Linked DNA regions of Homo sapiens. The protein of the gene in region 2 purifies or fractionates together with the protein of the main gene of each other region. This does not show direct contact. Each region holds a gene or a part of one and is shown on either strand. Other genes may lie near its edges.

Evidence for each region.
Region 1: the proteins of ODAD2 (region 2) and OMA1 purify together in Homo sapiens (affinity purification with mass spectrometry; one large-scale study listed by BioGRID and IntAct). This does not show direct contact.

The regions. Positions count from the first base shown.
Region 1 is NC_000001.11:58,536,512-58,540,337, forward strand, and holds part of OMA1 (metalloendopeptidase OMA1, mitochondrial precursor), read right to left. Parts: intron 2,800-3,826; 5' UTR 2,784-2,799; coding exon 2,284-2,783; intron 231-2,283; coding exon 2-230; intron 1-1. UniProt on the Homo sapiens protein: Metalloprotease that is part of the quality control system in the inner membrane of mitochondria. Activated in response to various mitochondrial stress, leading to the proteolytic cleavage of target proteins, such as OPA1, UQCC3 and DELE1.
Region 2 is NC_000010.11:27,992,515-27,996,340, forward strand, and holds part of ODAD2 (outer dynein arm-docking complex subunit 2), read right to left. Parts: intron 3,210-3,826; exon of another isoform or gene 3,135-3,209; intron 3,098-3,134; exon of another isoform or gene 2,667-3,097; 5' UTR 2,629-2,666; coding exon 2,405-2,628; intron 1,879-2,404; exon of another isoform or gene 1,795-1,878; intron 1-1,794.

The DNA.
Region 1 (3,826 bases), on a different chromosome or scaffold from region 2:
CTGCTTCATATTCCAGTTCCGATAAAAGTCTGAACTGTTCTTTCCCCAATAATAGTAGCTTGCTCCTTCCTGTGATTGGACTTACTTCCAGGTGAGTAAAATAAAACACCACAAAGAGCAATCCAAAACTACTCAAACCAAGGAATAGCTTCCATTTATTCTTCCTTATATTTTCTTTAACTACTTCCTTCTTGTTAGGAGGAAGTGCCTGCCACCATTTCCTTATGCCCCTAAAGCAAAAAGAAAAATTCAAAGTTCTGAAAATCATTCCAGCACATATCACTAAAGCTCAAATGCATACACTAGAATTTTACGTCCTCAAATACCTGAATTTGTATGATGTATTTCGCTGAATACATCGCTTTTCCAATTAATAAAATTCTTAGCTAAATGATGAAAAAATAATCAATGATGTAAAGTTACAGTTAAAAAATTCTAATACTCATCGAAATTTTCTTCTTCAGCTATTTTAAGGATAAACACTAAATGAGATGCTAGTTTACTATAACTACCACTGGTTAATATTTATTACTATCTAGTACATGCAAAATTCTCTCTCTCTCTCTCTCTCTCTGTATATATATATATACCATCTCATTTAATCTTCATAATAACCCTGTTACAGAAGATAAAATTGTTAGGTAACTTGTCCATGGCCACTGAGGTAATAAAAGGAAAACCAAGCAATGAAGGCAATGACATTCCAGAGTCTGACCACTTAGCCACTTAATAGGGATAAATGCCTAAATAATTATGTAAGAGGTTACAGTACAATAAATCTATACCTGGAACCACTACTTTTCCCACTGCTCCTCAGACCTCCAACACAATTTGCCAGTGATTCCACAAGGTACAAGGGAAACTGCCTCAGCATTCATTTTGGAAATAAATAGTGCTCAGTAGCAGAAACTCCACTATCCTCTTTACAACGTGAAAAAGGAGAGATAACAAGATCCTAGGTATTCATAAGAAAGTGGGAGATTTTATAGATAACATCTGAGAAGGTCCAATTTCTACCAGGCAACAATACTCTCTGCCACTTAGCAGTGTTCAGAAACATTTTGACAACAAGCAATGTTTTCAATACTGGGACAAAAATTTTCCTTATGAGTTGATCTGTAAAATCACAACAAAAATTTACCATATATACATCATTCTCTTGACAAAAATTTATTTTACAAATTCTTAAAGTTCTCTTTGTGAAGTGACACACCCCAATGCCTTTACACAAAGTGTGTCCATTTAAAGGGACATAAATCAAACTATCGAGTATACTTATTTCCTATTTAAAACTTTACATGACATTATCCTTTATTTAAAATGTATGAAAGACATATTCTAAATGAAAAATTTTAGGTGATCAACAATAGTAACAAAAACAAGAAAGTTACAAATAAATAATTTAAAAGGATGAGGACATAGCAGAAATCAGAAAGAGCATCCGAAGAACCTGGGATGAGCGTATTACTTCAACCAATAGTCAATACAGCTGTATCGCTTTTGGGTGCCAACACCAAATCATGAAAAACACAATAAGTTACAAATAGAAGTTCTTGGTTTTTGATCAAAAGCAAACTGGTTTGGTTCATGTGGTAGTAAGAAGGCTAGAAGGGACTTCACAGTCATCAAACACAAGAAAGCTTTATGAAGAAACAGTGATTAGCTTTCTTCCATCTTCATAAAACAAACAAGAGAAAAAGGGTTAAAGCACTACAAGCTGTGAAAATATTATTATAAAGGATCACCAAGGAAAAAAACAAAGATTTGTTGGGAACAGAATAGAAAGAAAAGAAGCATTAATGACTTAAGAGTTAACTAGGAGTGAGCCCACCCTTATATAAGCAAAGTTCCTCAATTTTATGATTTGCTGCCTTAAATTCCACAAATTAAAAAGAAATGTTTGTAAGTACTCTTCTTATACATAAGTGATAACCAGCACTTCTGATCCATATATCCTAAGATTTTGTAGTCATAAATATAAGATTTTTTTAATGCCTATACAAAATGTAAGAATAACTTTTTAAAGAGATATTTCTATACCATAAATTAGTATGCAGGAAATTGTTTCAAGATTATTAAATCATACAGAACAAAATTGGGCAGGACCTACTGTTTAGAAACTTCACTTTGAGCTAAATGGGGGGAGACAGGGGATCTGGCAAGGTTTCTTTAAAAGTACAGTTTTATAAATAAAAAAATTAATTTCTAAAAGTTAATACGTTAGCACAAAATATTAATGCAAAAAGTTAATATAAAAGTTTTTATTCTAAAAAAGCATTTTACCTGCCTACAATGATTGCAAATAACTTCTGTACTGGTTTAAGAATCATCAACAAGAGAGGAACCGGAGCAGCTTGAAACCGTGGAGAAGTATGGAAATTCCTAATAGCTCTTATGGAAGCAGGGCTTAGAGGATGCAATACTGACAGACTAGGGACTGCTGTAACTTCTTTTATTAGCAGCTGTCTTGAAAAAGCATCATTCCATACAGTACATTTGCTGGTAATCCTCCAAATTTCCTTACTTTTGGTACTTGAGAGGCCTCCTGTTCTTTTGTTGTTAAAAGTACTATAAAAATGAAAGTTTCCAGGCAGAAAACTCCACCTGTCACACTGATTTACTCCCAGTCCCTGATACTTATTTACTATATGGTTAACTTGTACTTGATGACAGCCCCGTGAGGTGGATGCTAATGTGTTACATTTTCTCCAGTTAGACAGTGAATTAAATCGGAAGAAAACATGGTTTCTAGCAGCAGACTGCAATCCACAGATGAAGCTCATTTTTTCACTTGACTACCTGAAACAAAAAAAAAACTATAAATATCTGTGGAAAATATTTACTTACCAAACTGGGACTATAACACTTATTAAATAGGCGTGTCAGTTGTTCTTCTAACACATCTCAGGCTAAATTACCTTGGGTTTCAACTCATCACCCCTAGAGCAACGCCTTTCAGCAAGATAAACCAGAGTATATATACCACGATATTTACTATGCAACGTTTACTTTAGAAGCTTGAATTTTTTTCATTTCATTTTTAATTTTTAGTTAGGGAAGAGCCATTTGTATTTTAATGGCAAATGATTTGAGCAATAAAGTGGATTAGATAAAAACAACAGTAAAACTTTATCAGTTTGCAATAACTGGAAGGAAGCATGTGATACAGAATAGTAAAATCTAACTTATAAAATGCACTGGACATTACGCAATGAAGAACAGTGATCCCTAACAGATGGGAAACAGAGCCCTACAACTGTCCTAGCTTATTGCCTGGAGAGTGCTTCCAGGCCACAATGCAGACAGGGTAAACCTAGGTGGAGCCCAGTGGTTCCCCTAAATCGAAGAGATAAAGCTGGGAGGTCAAGTAAACCAAGGTTGCTAGAGCTCACAGGACAGAGGACAAGAGAAGACAAGAGCTGCACAGAGAAATAACTCTAGAGTTCTGCAGAGAATCCCCCTCCCATATTCAGCTGAGTCCTGTCTGGGCATATGTGTAAGAAAATTCCCTGGAGCTGGGAAAGGGCCACCTGAAAAGATTGCAGGGAATAATATACAGGGCTCACACAGGGCATGGTATACTGCCTATCCCCTCCCCACCATTCAAAGTGGAAAACCTTATCATTCGTGGGTAGAGTACTCAGAAGGGTTTTGCCTCAACATTAGAGAAAGATTAGTCTGAGACCGAAAGCTGCTCTGGCCCCACCTAACAAATATTAAAAGCAACCCCCAAAAAGATTAAATGCTTCCAAGCAACAACTGCATCCCAGGAAAAAAAAAAAATCTAAACAGGTATTAGGACACAAAACTATTTAACACTTAACAA
Region 2 (3,826 bases):
CCTGTCTCTACAAAAAAATAGAAAAATTGACCAGGCATAGTAGTATGTGCCTATAGTCCTAGCTGCTTGAGGGGCTGAGGTGGGAGGATCCATGGAGCCCAGGAGTTTGAGCTGCAGTGAGCTATGATCACTCCACTGCAGTCCAGCCTGGGCAACAGAGCCAGACCCTGTCTTAAATAAATACATAAATAACTGTGTGCTGAGATATAAGAATGGAAATAAGGCAAAAAGAATCTGGACAAGAATAGGGGGAAATAGTGATAGATTTGAGAGGTGTGTGTCACAGCCCACCTAACTAGGGGTCAGATGTGATCACGTTTGTGCTTGGAGCACAAAATTTGTACAAAGGCAAAACAATCATGATATTCTTTTCTGTCATCTGCTTTAAATGCATTTTTATAAAAAAATATTAATTTTTTTTGAGATGGAGTTTCTCTGTCACCCAGGCTGGAGTTCTGTGGTGCAATCTCGGCTCACTGCAACCTCCACCTCCCAGATTCAAGCAATTCTCCTGCCTCAGCCTCCCTAGTAGCTGAGATTACAGAACGTGCCACCATGCCCGGCTAATTTCTGTATTTTCAGTAGAGACAGGATTTCACCATGTTGGCCAGGCTGGTCTTGAACTCCTGATCTCTGGTGATCTGCCCACCTCGGCCTTTCAAAACGTTGGGATTACAGGTGTGAGCCACCATGATCAGCCAAGTAGTTAATATGTTTTTAATTTGTTTTACGTAGGAGATCATATTTCAAAGCTTAGGAAAAAAGCTGAACAATACAGAAATGACAACTTCTGGAGAAAGTTACCACTGGCACAGTTAGAAATAAAATGCACCATTAGAAAAATAAGATTTCAGGCCGGGCGTGGTGGTTCACACCTGTAATTCTAACACTTTGGGAGGCTGAGGCAGGCGGGTTGCCTGAGCTCAGGAGTTCAAGACCAGCCTGGGCAACATGGGGAAACCCCGTCTCTACTAAAATACAAAAAATTAGCCAGGCGTGGTGGCGGATGCCTATATTCCGAGCTACTTAGGAGGCTGAGGCAGGAGAATTGCTTGAACCAGAGAGGTGGAACTTGCAGTGAACCAAGATTACACCACTGCACTCCAGCCTGGGCAAAAGAGCGAGACTCTGTCTCCAGAAAAAAAAATAAATAAATAAATATGACTTCAAACAACTCAGAGAGAAGGCTGACCAATAGAAGAATTAAAGAGCTTTTGAAATACAGTTTAAGAATGGTTTTGCTGCAGTTCTAAAAATGAAATTCTGACTTTATTCTCACAAATAATCCCAAAGGGAGAAAAGGGAAAAGGCATCTACAGGAAGCTTTGGCTAGCTAGGGAACTGTTTTTATATGATCAGACTTTAAAAGTTCATATCCAGAACAAAGAAGAACAAGGTGGTAGAAAATAGAATGCCTAAGGTGCAAAATAAACTGAGGCTGGCAAATATATATATATATATGTGTGTGTGTGTGTGTGTGTGTGTGTGTGTGTGTATTTGTTAGCTTACTTATTGTATAATTATAATGCTTAATGAACTAATACATTCTTATACAATTATATTTAATTTGTTCACATAATTTATGCGTATGTGTGTGTATATATATATTTTAGCCATGTTTGAATGAGATAGATTGAGAGTTCACTGTTTGAGACAGAAGTAAATTTTTTTTCATCTCAGATTTGAAAGGCTCTAATCTGAGGACACCAGTAATTCTTAAGAATTCTCTCCCTTATATTGGGCAAAATCAAAATTCATCATTCATCACCCCTCCCCGCCGCCTCCTGCTTCTAGCCCAGGAATTGATCAATTTAAATACCAGAAGAGATTTCATCTACATCAGAGGTCACGAAACCAATGGCTCCTGGCATCTGGCAGGTAATACGGAAGTACCCCATACATTTATAGAAATAAAATTCAGAAGAATATGGATGACCTGGTGTGGTGGCTCATGCCTGTAACCCTAGCATTGTAGAAGGCTGAGGCAGGAGGATCACTTGAGGCCAGGAATTTGAGACCACCCTGGGCAACATAGTGAGACCTCATCTGTAAAAAGTATATATATGTGTATATATATCTCCACATATGGGTGGAAAGGCCAGGCATAAAGCAGCAATGGATGTTGGCAGTGTAGTGACCTGGATAACGGATGCCCTGTTAAAAGAAATTTACCCACAAAAATTAAAATTTTGTTTAATTTGAAAAATTTAAAACTTAGAAAGATACTGTGTTGGCCAAGCTGAATATCCTCAGACTTCACCTGTGTGTCTCTGGTTTTCATTCCCTGGTTTAGAGGGCTTCTGAGGTTCAGAGAGGTTAGGTGACTTGCCCCCAAACCTAGAACCAATTGATAATACTATGTACAACGAAGATATCAAATCCTAGAAGCAAGTAACTGGCTTACCTGACAACATAACCTGATTCAAATGCTGAGGGCGCCAAACTTGTGTTCCATTCAAGTGGTTCCACAAAAACAAATTTTGCCTCTTGAGGATGTTTATAGATAAAACTCTCCACAAACACAATAATTTCTTTCAATATCGCTTCATTTAGAGGGGTGATTTCGAGGATTCCAGTTCCATGTCCGGCAGCAGTCCACTGCGTCAATTTCCTCAGAGCCACACCCATGGGATCCACCGTGCTCAGACCTGAGCTTAGCACACGCACTACATCAGAGCAGAAAGAGAAAGAGACAACAGCGTCCACCTTTTCCTTGGAACATTTTTCATTCTCAAGACTTTAAACTAGTACTCCCCATCCCACATTCTGCTTATTAATCTTGGAAGATTCTTTTAACATTATCTAATTGCTCTTCAGTTCAATGAAGTAGTAAACCAGCACTAGATAAAACTGACTAGTATTTAAGAAATTTCCGGTATTTGCCCTGAAATTAATAACTTCTTTCTAATTTCCCTAGGGCCTAAGAGAGAGGATTCAAACAGATAGGCATAAAACCCAAATAGAAAACTCCAAGAGTGGAAAAAAAAGGAAGTGGAAGAGGTTTATATTAAGGGCTTTTGTTCACAGCTCTGTTGGGAGCCAGCAGTTTCAGGGACAAACATTCCTTTCAGCCAGGACACACATTGTTTAGAATTACACTATTAAACTGAATACTGTTATCCCGACTTTCTTACAGTGACAATATCTGCATCATCACAATGATGACTGAAGAACATGATTCTGGTAGCTCTGGTTTCCCCAAGTGCATTCTGAGTTAAAAAAGAAATAGAATAAGAACAGTATTGTGAAATATAATTTTTTTTCTAAAAATTGATACAGGACACATTGATCCTATTACCAGAATATCTGGACAATCCAAATACTATTTTCCCTGCCTGTATATCCTGCCCAGATGACATTTTACTGTAATTCACAACCTTCTTAAGAGTTAATGTGAGAGATGTAGGAATAAGTGAGACTCTTTCAGCCTTTTTATCTAAATTAGTTATCAGAAGAGTCTAGCAGTAAAATTTAAAACCAATTCAAGTGAGACAAATTTCACATTGGCTAAATAGAAATTAGTCTGTAAAAGAAGATCTTTTAAAAAGTAACAAAATCTGTAACGTTAAATAAGAGCCAAGTTAGAAAGCACGTTCTGACTTCATAATGAACATTTAATGCTTTTTTGGCAGATAATCTATACTTGTTTCTTTTCTCTTTTGTATAGCACTTATTGATAAAATCTTTCTTCCAGAATATTAGAAGAATGGTTATACGGTTAAATATAGAATAAAATTGGCTTTTTACTCCCATCATTATTAAAAAGGCTTAAAGTACAAAGATTAGACTTGGAGATTTTACATTCTGTACTGTATTAAATCTTTGA